Homo sapiens: one gene and its partners. The protein of the gene in region 1 purifies or fractionates together with the protein of each later gene. This does not show direct contact. Each region holds a gene or a part of one and is shown in the gene's direction. Other genes may lie near its edges. The genes, in order: GLI4, YJU2B and PTCD1.

Evidence for each region.
Region 2: the proteins of GLI4 (region 1) and YJU2B purify together in Homo sapiens (co-immunoprecipitation; one large-scale study listed by IntAct). This does not show direct contact.
Region 3: the proteins of GLI4 (region 1) and PTCD1 purify together in Homo sapiens (affinity purification with mass spectrometry; one large-scale study listed by BioGRID and IntAct). This does not show direct contact.

Annotation. Positions count from the first base shown.
Region 1 is NC_000008.11:143,273,794-143,277,435, forward strand, and holds the end of GLI4 (zinc finger protein GLI4), read left to right. Parts: intron 1-910; coding exon 911-1,009; intron 1,010-2,103; coding exon 2,104-3,011; 3' UTR 3,012-3,138; downstream 3,139-3,642.
Region 2 is NC_000019.10:13,757,883-13,760,977, forward strand, and holds part of YJU2B (probable splicing factor YJU2B), read left to right. Parts: intron 1-985; coding exon 986-1,128; exon of another isoform or gene 1,129-1,217; coding exon 1,218-1,390; intron 1,391-3,095. UniProt on the Homo sapiens protein: May be involved in mRNA splicing.
Region 3 is NC_000007.14:99,428,689-99,432,336, reverse strand, and holds part of PTCD1 (pentatricopeptide repeat-containing protein 1, mitochondrial), read left to right. Parts: intron 1-2,530; coding exon 2,531-2,749; intron 2,750-3,132; coding exon 3,133-3,234; intron 3,235-3,648. Other genes in the region: ATP5MF-PTCD1 (ATP5J2-PTCD1 fusion protein), read left to right, coding at 2,531-2,749, 3,133-3,234. UniProt on the Homo sapiens protein: Mitochondrial protein implicated in negative regulation of leucine tRNA levels, as well as negative regulation of mitochondria-encoded proteins and COX activity. Also affects the 3'-processing of mitochondrial tRNAs.

The DNA of each region.
Region 1 (3,642 bases):
TTGAGTACAGCCCCCAGCCACCCTCTCTGCTGTGGGCAGAGGGCAGGTGAGGCACCAGGGTGGCACAGCACTGAGGGGGCAGGTGAGGCACCAAGGTGGCACAGCACTGAGGAGACAGGTGAGACCCCCAAAGGGGCCTGGTGCCCCTGCTGGCGTGAGGAGAGCTGACCACTGGCCTCGGGCAGTGGAGCCCACGCCCCTCCCTTTTCAGTCTGTGCTCCTTGAGCATTAAGGCCATCCCCCCACCCTGCCCCCACCAAGTCTTGGGTGGGAGGGGGGTCTTGGTCCTGGGTGCCCAAGCCTGGTGTGCCCAGGGGTGAGGGGCTCATAGATGGGCCCAGCCCATTCCTCAGGCTCTGCCTGAGGAAGCCAGGGGCCAGTGCGCTGGGCCTGCTGGAAGCAGCTGCCTCTGCTGTTTCTGGGCGCTCGTCAAGGACAGCAGAGAGCCCCGGAGGGACAGAAAGGTCTGGGGCCAAGGCAGGAAGGCTTTGTGAGGTACGGGTGTGGGAGCCTGCAGGGCCAGCACTTTGAGAGGCCGGTCCAGAGCAGCACTGCAGGATGCTGGGGCATGGAGGAGGGTGGGCCACAGCCCACCAAGGTGACAAAGCCGCCTTCAACGGCAGGAGGGCCGCTTCAAAGCTCCCCCAGGTTTTGGCTCTGCTTACTGGGCTGAAGGGGAATGAGCTCCCAATGCTGGCCCCTGGAGGAGGAGGCTCTTGAACCGAGCTGGGAAGGAAGGTAAAGGGCATTCGTGGCTAGAGAAGCCCAAGCAGCGGGCCTGCTGTTGGGATTGGGAGGGCCAGGAGGTGTCCTGTGTCAGGGCCACAGCCCGGGAGCACGTGGCGGTCAGAGAGGAGCGGAGGCAGTGGTCCAGAGGGTGGAGGTGAGCCCCAGCCTCCCTGACCCCCAGGCTCCCCTGGCTCCAGCCCTAAGGTGCTCTCCCAGCCGTCCGACCTGGATCTCCAAGACGTAGAGGAAGTGGAGATCGGCAGAGACACCTTCTGGCCCGGTGAGTGAGCAGAATCGGGTTACTGGGGGACCAGAGCTCTGCGCGTGCCAGGCTCCTCACAATGCCCACCTCTGTGGCACCCCCAATGCTGGCACCACCCCCTTCCTGGGGCCCCTTTTCTTCCCTGGCATCAGCTCACCTCTGCCCCGTGGCCCCTCCCCCACTCTAATGCCAGTCCAGTTACTGATGCTTCCCGAGGCGGTGACTGCAGCCCACAGCCACCTGCGCCAGTGGCCCCACGTGGACTCCTGCCGGCCCCAGCTGGACACAGTGAATCAGGAACTCCTCCCTCCCCTCCACCTGCCTTGGGCTGGGGCTTCTGGCTCAGGGCACCACTGTCCCCCCAGATCCACGAGTTATCCTGTGTCCCCTCCTCCTCCTGCATCCCCTAGATGGCCTCCCCTCAGCCTGGTTGGAGCTGTGTCCAGGTCCCCTGCACCTCCCCCTTGAGAAGCTCCCAGGGTTCCCTCTGGGCGATGTTAGTGATATGGCTGGATTTAACAGTGCTGAGCCCTCGCCCACATCTGGGCGGCCCTGGGGTGGGGAGCAGGTGTCTGAGGTCAGGTCCCTGGAAAGAGACCCTGGGCCAGAGATTTGCGTGGGAAGCTCCTGGGGTGGGCATGGGAGCTGGGCGGCAGCACACTTGCCACCGAGGCCTGGGGCAGCCCCATGAGGAGCTGTGCCCATATGGACCACATCCTCGGCAAGGGCTTTGAGGCGCCCTCTGGAGCTCTGGCGTCCCCCAGGCTCCGGGTCCTCACCAACACTTAGTGCTTCCTCCTGGCTAAGGGTGACCCCATGGTCTGTCTTGCCACTGTGGCTCCGTGCACCGGCACGGCCGCCGTGGTGACTGTGGATGGTCCCAGCAGCTCTGGGTCACCCTGCAACGCCCCCCACCCCTGTGTCTATGTCAGCTCTCCTGGGCACGGCACTCCGAGCCCCTGTCCGCTTGTCTCCCATCCACTGGGTGCCTGGCCCCTCCTTGTCCCCTCTAAGCCCCCCCGTCCAGCTCTGCTCTCACTCCCCGTCCCCGTCCCTCCGTGCCACGGTGGGGGCATGCGGGTACTATCCGCCTCTGCCGTTTCTCATTTCAGACTCCGAGCCCAAGCCGGAGCAGGCTCCACGCTCTCCTGGCTCTCAGGCCCCTGACGAGGGGGCGGGCGGGGCGCTGCGCAGCCTCCTGAGGAGCCTTCCCCGCAGGGCCCGGTGCAGCGCCGGCTTCGGGCCTGAATCCAGCGCGGAGCGGCCGGCGGGCCAGCCGCCTGGGGCCGTCCCTTGCGCCCAGCCGCGGGGCGCCTGGCGCGTGACGCTCGTGCAGCAAGCAGCGGCCGGGCCCGAGGGTGCGCCCGAGCGGGCTGCCGAGCTGGGAGTCAACTTCGGTCGGAGCCGGCAGGGCAGCGCGCGGGGGGCCAAGCCGCACAGGTGCGAGGCCTGCGGCAAGAGTTTCAAGTATAACTCGCTGCTCCTGAAGCACCAGCGCATCCACACGGGCGAGAAGCCCTACGCCTGCCACGAGTGCGGCAAGCGCTTCCGCGGCTGGTCGGGCTTCATCCAGCACCACCGCATCCACACGGGCGAGAAGCCCTACGAGTGCGGCCAGTGCGGCCGCGCCTTCAGCCACAGCTCGCACTTCACGCAGCACCTGCGCATCCACAACGGCGAGAAGCCCTACAAGTGCGGCGAGTGCGGCCAGGCCTTCAGCCAGAGCTCCAACCTGGTGCGCCACCAGCGGCTGCACACGGGTGAGAAGCCCTACGCCTGCAGCCAGTGCGGCAAGGCCTTCATCTGGAGCTCCGTGCTCATCGAGCACCAGCGCATCCACACTGGCGAGAAGCCCTACGAGTGCTCCGACTGCGGCAAAGCCTTCCGCGGCCGCTCGCACTTCTTCCGGCACCTGCGGACCCACACGGGCGAGAAGCCCTTCGCGTGTGGCGCCTGCGGCAAGGCCTTCGGCCAGAGCTCCCAGCTCATCCAGCACCAGCGGGTGCACTACCGCGAGTAGCCGGGCGGGGGCTCGGGGCTCGGCCTCCTACCTGCCCCCAACCCACCCTCCACCCCGTCCCCCACGGTGGGCACTGCCCAGCACCGCATGCCACGTGTCCGGAATAAATTCTTTTTGATTGTTGGAAGTGGGAGCCGGCACCTGCCTGGGTGAGACCTTGGGGCAGCTTCCTGTCCCCGAGGACCCGCTGCGGGATGGGGGTGATGGGGCTGCTCCACCAAGACCTGCCATACAGGGCCACGGGGTCCCTGGGGTCTGGCGGGCGGCCCGAGTGTCGTAGGGGAGGATCTGAGGCCTGGAGGTGTCCTGACTTGCCCAAAGCTGATACCCCACCATCAACACGGGAGGCGGGGGGGGCGCGCCCAGAGCAGGGGTCGAGGACGGGGCCAGTCTAGAAGTGCTCACAGGCCTGGCCAGGCTGCCTGTCTGCCACCTGGGTGAGGGGTCTCTGGCAACTCGGTTCCCTTATGTATTTGGGAGGCCTCTGCTTCTGTAAATGCAGCAGGCTTCCCCACGTGCCCTGTCAGCTCTGCTGCCTCCATTCAGTGGGGGGCCTGCTGGGCAGCAGTGGCCCGGGCTTCCTCTGCACCAGCCCCTTGCCCTGGGGTGTGGGGGCCCAGGGTGTTCAGGT
Region 2 (3,095 bases), on another chromosome or scaffold:
GGTGGCCACAGGGCGAGGGGGCTACAAAGAGCCTGAGTTGCGGGGGGAACCCATTCCCTGCAGGACTCCTGGAAATCGCCCTGGTTGGTGAATCAGGGCACACCCCACCCCCGCAACCCTCCATGGCTCCCACCTTCCTCAGTAAAAGCCCAAGTCCTCCCCCTGGCTCACAAGGCACCACACACTCTGCCTGTCCTTTCTTCACCCTAACCTCCTCCTGCTGTCCCCCTCCCTGGCCTCCTCGTTGTCCCTCACACACCCCAGGGACACACCCACCTCTGTGCTTCCACCTGGAATGCTCTTCCCCAGGTAGCTCCAAGGCTCCTCCCTCACCCGGGGTTTCTGCTCAAACAGCACCCCTCAGAGACACCTTTTCTAAAGTGAGACTTGACACTGGTTGCTTGTGCCCTTGCTATCAAGGTGGGCCCTGCTGGGACGTCAGCCTTTCCATGAGCAAGTTGGCTTTTCCACTACTCAGCAATTTCCCCAGCAGCTGGCACTGAGCCTGCCACAGAGCAGCCTGTCTTGGGCGGGTTTGTTGAATAAATGAACTAGTGGACAAATGAATGAACAAATGAATGAACAGAATGAACAAATGATAAGTGAATTAACAAATGGATGGATGAGCAAATGAATGTATGAATTACTTTAACAAATGAATCAGTGAACCAACAAACAAATGCACTAATGAATGAACAAATGAATTAACGAATAAATGAACCAAAAAAATGGATGAGGGAATGAATGAATGAACAAACAGCTGAATGAACAAATGAATAAGCCAACTGCAGCCCCACTGACAGAAGGTCCGTTCTGGGTGCCCGGATGTGCCCCTTTTTGCCCGTGGCTCTACACGGCACACAGTGGGTGCTCAGTGAATTTTTGTCAAATGACACCATTGGGTGGAAGGAAGCAGGCAGAGGCGACAGGGCTGTCCTGGTGCACAGCCACAGCCTCCTGACTCCTGCCCACCGCTCCCTCCCAGGTTCCGGATGAAATGCCACCTCTGTGTCAACTACATCGAGATGCAGACGGACCCCGCCAACTGCGACTACGTGATCGTGAGTGGCGCCCAGCGCAAGGAGGAGCGCTGGGACATGGCGGACAATGAGCAGGTGCTGACCACAGGTGAGCGCCACCCACTTACCTGCCTGGGGGCCCTGGCCCTGAGTCTGCGCTGGGGCCCCCAAAGCCCAGCCGAGCTCTGATCGTTGCAGAGCATGAGAAGAAGCAGAAGCTGGAGACGGACGCCATGTTCCGGCTGGAGCATGGCGAGGCCGACCGCAGCACACTCAAGAAGGCGCTGCCCACACTGAGCCACATCCAGGAGGCCCAGAGCGCCTGGAAGGACGACTTCGCCCTCAACAGCATGCTGCGGAGAAGGTTCCGGGTGAGGGGGGCTCCAGCCCGGGGTCAGAGAGGATGCATGGTGGACCAAGGCCCGGGTCCAGCCCTCCCCCCACCACATCCTAGCTTTGAGCAGGCCACTGTACCCTCTGAGCCTCAGTTTCCCCATCTGCTACATGGTGACCATGCCCTGTCTTAATCCATTCTGGCTACTATAATAAAAAATACCATAGACAGAAACAGTAGAAATTTGGCTGGGCACAGTGACTCACGCCTGTAATCCAGCACATTGGGAGGATCGCTTGAGGCCAGGAGTTCAAGATCAGCCTGGGCAACATAGTGAGACACCACCCCCCCCCTCCCCCAGCATCTCTAAATAAATAAATAATAGAAATTAATTTTTTTTTTGTTTTGAGACAGTAGTCATCTCGCTCTGTCATCCAGGCTAGAGTGCAGTGGCGCAATCTTGGCTCACTGCACCTCTGCCTCCTGGGTTCAAGCAATCCTCCTGCCTCAGCCTCCAGAGTAGCAGGAATTATAGGTACCCACCACCACCACGCCTGGCTAATTTTTTTTTTTTTTTTTGAGACTGAGTTTCACTCTTATTGCCCAGGCTGGAGTGCAATGGCATGATCTTGGGTCACCGCAACTTCTGCCTCCCGGGTTCAAGTGATTCTCCTGCCTCAGCCTCCTGAGTAGCTGGGATTATAGGCATGCACCATCACGCACAGCTAGTATTCTTAGTAGAGACGGGGTTTCTCCATGTTGGTCAGGCAGGTCTCAAACTCCCATCCTCAGGTTATCTGCCTGCCTCGGCCTCCTAAAGTGCTGGGATCACAGGCGTGAGCCACCGCACCTGGCCAATTTGTGTATTTTTAGTAGAGGCGGGGTTTCACCATGTTGGCCAGGCTGGTCTCGAACTCCCAACCTCAAGTGATCCACCGTGGCCTACCCAAAGTGCTGGGATTACAGGCGTGAGCCACCGAGACCAGCCAAAATAAACAATAGAATTTTATTTCTCATGGTTCTGGAGTCTGCGAAGTCCAGGATCAAGGCGCTGGCAGATCCAGTGTCTGGTGAGGGCCCATTTCTCATAGGCGGTGGCTTCTAGCTGTGTCCTCATGTGGCAGAAGGGACAAACAAGTTCCCTTGAGCCTCCTTTTATAAGTCCAATAATCTCATTGGTGAGGACGTAGCCCTTCTGACTTAATTACTTCCCCAAATGCCTCACATCTTTTAACACTGTCAACGTTGAGGATTAAGCTTCAACATATCAATTTGGGGGACACAGACATTGAGACCATAGCTCACCCCTACCTCACCATGCCATGGGAGATACCTACCTGGTTGCCTCCTTTTATTTATTTATTTTTTTTCTTTTTGTGACTGGGTCTCACTCTGTTGCCCAGGCTGGAGTACAGCGGCAAATCATGTCTCACTGCAGCCTCGATGTCCCAGGTTCAAGCAATCCTCCCCACTAAGCCTCCCAAGTAGCTGGGACCCACAGGCATGAGCCATCACACCTGGCTAATGTTGGGTTTTTTGTGTTTTGTTTTTGCTTAGACTGAGTCTCGCTCGTCGCCCATGCTGCAGTGCAGTGGCATGATCCCGGCTCACTGAAGCCTCCACCCCAGGTTCAAGCAATTCTCCTGCCTCAGCCTCCCAAGTAGCTGGGATTCCAGGTTCCCACCACTGTGCATGGCTAATTTTTGTATTTTTAGTAGAGACTGGGTATCACCATGTTGGCC
Region 3 (3,648 bases), on another chromosome or scaffold:
TTCGCCTATCTCAGTAAATAGAACACACAATCTGGTTTTACACCCAAGACATTCCATTCCCAGGGACGAGCAGGAGACAGATGCCTTCCTCTTATCTCAACTGCAAAGAGGCCTTCCTCTTTCACTAACCCTCCTCAGCACAGACCCTTTATGGGCGTCGGGCTGGGGGACAGGCTGGGAGACAGTCAGGTCTTTCCCTTCCCACGAGGCCATATCTCAGGCTATCACATGGGGAGAAACCTTGGACAATACCTGGCTTTCCTGGGCAGAGGTCCCTGCGGCCTTCCGCAGTGTATTGTGTCCCTGGGTACTCGAGATTGGAGAATGGCGATGACTTTTATCAAGCCTACTGCCTTCAAGCACTTTTTTAACAAAGCACACCCTGCACAGCCCTAAATCCATTAAACCTTGAGTCAACACAGCTCATGTCTCTGCAAGCACAGGGTTGGGGCTAGGGTTACAGTTTAACAGCATCTCAAGGCAGAAGAATTTCTCTTAGTACAGAACAAAATGGAGTTTCTTGTGTCTACTTCTTTCTACATAGACACAGTAACAGTCTGATCTCTCTTTCTTTTTCCTACAGTCCTTTTTTTTTGGAGACAGAGTCTCGCTCTGTCGCCCAGGCTGGAGTGCAGTGGTGCGACCTCGGCTCACTGGAACCTCCGCCTCCTGGGCTCGAGCAGTTCTCATACCTCAGCCTCCCGAGTAGCTGGGACTACAGGCGCACATGCCACCATGCCTGGCTCATTTTGTTTGTATTTTTAGTAGAGACAGCATTTCACCATGTTGGCCAGGCTGGTCTCTTGACCTCAAGTGGTCCACCCGCCTTGGCCTCCCAAAGTGCTAGAATTACAGGCGTGAGCCACCGCACCCAGCCCATTACATCTATTTTAAAAAACTATTATTTTTGGCCAGGTGCGGTGGCTCACACCTGTAATCCCACCATTTTGGGAGCCCAAAGTGGGCGGATCACGAGGTCAAGAGATTGAGACCATCCTGGCCAACATGGTGAAACCCTGTCTCTACTAAAAATACAAAATTTAGCTGGGCGTGGTGGCACGTACCTGTAGTCCCAGCTACTCAGGAGGCTGAGGCAAGGGAATCACTTGAACCCAGGAAGTGGAGGGAGGTCGTAGTGAGCCGAGATCACGCCACTGCACTCTAGCCTGGCGACAGAGTAAGACTCCATCTCAAAAAAAAAGAAAAAAAACTAATATTTTTATTGTTTTTATTTATTTTATTTTATTTATTTATTTTTTTGAGACGGGAGTTTTGGCTCTGTCACCCTGGCTGGAGTGCAGTGGTGCGACCTCGGCTCAATGCAACCTCCACCTCCCAGGTTCAAGCAATTCTCCTGCCTCAGCCTCCCGAGTAGCTGGGATTAAAGGCGCCCACCACCATGCCTGGCTAATTTTTTTGTGTTTTTTGTAGAAGACGGGGTTTCGCCATGTTGGCCAGGCTGGTCTCGAACTCCTGACCTCAGGTGATCTGCCCACCTCAGCCTTCCAAAGTGCTGGGATTATAGGCGTGAGCCACGGCACCCAGCCTTGTTACTGTTTTTGGTGACTCACCTGCAGTGTGTCTCCCTTCTTGAGTGTAAGCTCAGTAAGGATAGGCTGTGCCCGCTCTGCTAACCCCAGGGCTGCTGCTGGGCAGGTAGTGAGTTGTCAGTGCACCTCTGTGGAGTGCAGCAATACACGCAGAGCTTACATCATCCTCAAAGTAGGGACTGCCCTCTTTGCTTTTCAGATAAGGAAACTGAGGCACAGAGAGATGAAGGGACATGTCCAAGGCCACCCCACTTGAATGCACCGGGGCTGGGATTTGAGCCCCAGATGGCCTGACTCTAGCAGGGTTCTTTCTGCCGCTGAGCTGCCTATCGCCTGCCTTTGTCCAGATGGCCCTTCTCTGGCCAATAGCGAGTGCTAGGCTTCACCACGGATTGTCAACCCTGAGCACATGCCTTAGTCCCCTGGAGGCTCAGTAAGCTGAGTGTCACTCAGCTCCGGGGCTTGTGACTTACCAGATCAGGTGGCCCTGAGAATGTGCATTGTGCCACTGGTTCGGGGCCACCCCTAGAGCACTGCAGTGCATCCTCCCACTTGCCACAGGCATGCCTGGTTTCAAGGTGATGGTGTCATCCCCATTTTCGCGAGGAAGTGCTAACTTGCCCGGGAGCCCTCAGGTAGTAAGCACTACAGGCCCTTTCCCCTTGACGGGGTGGCCTGAAGGTGGGGACATCAGGAAGACCTTGCTGCCAGGACCCCAGGCCTGGAGTGGGCTGACAAGTGCCCAGGGCAGGGTAGCTCCTGTTTGGTACATCTGGGTGTGTGGGCTCAGTTTTCAGAGTCCCTTCAATGTGTCTGAGTTTGGAGAGCTGGGCTCTGATGTGTCCATGGCTCTGCCTTAGAGCCTGGCCTGGTGGATGCAGTGACGGGGTCCTCTCCAGCCTCAGCCTCCTCTGGGGCAGCTGCTCACCTGTGCGTCCAGCTGATCCCGGGCCACCACTGAGCTTCTTCCATCTCCACAGATGAAAAAGCGGGACCTGGAGCCCTCGGACGCCACCTACACGGCCCTGTTCAACGTCTGTGCCGAGTCCCCCTGGAAGGACTCAGCTCTACAGAGCGCCCTGAAGCTCCGGCAGCAGCTGCAGGCCAAAAACTTCGAGCTCAACTTGAAAACATACCACGCGCTGCTGAAGATGGCTGCCAAGTGCGCAGACCTTAGGATGTGCCTCGATGTGTTCAAGGTGGGGCTTCCCCTGCCGTCCTGCTCCCCTTCATGGGGCTGGTCCCACGTGTCAGGGGCAGGGCTGTGGTGTCTGTCTCTCCTCATGTAGGAAGGCTTAGGGAGGATGAGACAGCCGGTATTGGGCCCTGGGGTTCACAGATGGATCTGATGAGACCTTACTGGAGATTGTGTATGCCACCGTGTGCTGTGTCCTGCTTTGTGCACTCGAGGGAAGGCTTCCTAGAGACAGGGTCTTGCTATGTTGCCCAGGCTGGTCACAAAACTCCTGGCCTCAAGTGATCATCCTGCCTTGGCCTCCCAATGTGCCAGGATTACAGACATGAGCTACCATGCCCAGCCTGCTGCAGGTTCTCAGTGGGACGTCTTTGTTCCCTCCCCCAGGAAATCATCCACAAAGGGCACGTGGTCACAGAGGAGACCTTCAGTTTCCTGCTCATGGGCTGCATCCAAGACAAGAAGACAGGCTTCCGGTACGCCCTCCAGGTATGTCCCTCCCACCCCACCTTCCTGCCCTGCTTCCCCGGTGCCAGAGGTGCAAAATGGTGATCCTGTGAGCACCCACGATGGCCCTGTGCTGAGTATTTTTATATCTGTGCTCTTTTCTGAAAACCCAGCAGCCACTGTAGCCTCCATTCTACAGATGGCAGGGAGAGGAGGCCCTTGGAGATGGAATGAGGGTGGCCCCCGCCCCTCCCACCCTGCTTTGCAGTCGGCTTAGCCCCTCTAAACTCACCTTCCTTGAAAGCCTGCCACACACTCACCTGGGGACTTGTTCAACCCTCCCACACCCCCATTAGCACTTCTGCAGGTGCAACCCAGGAGTCATTCATTCATTCATTCATTCATTTATTTTGAGATGGAGTCTCACTCTTGCCCAGGCTGGAGTGAGCGATCTTG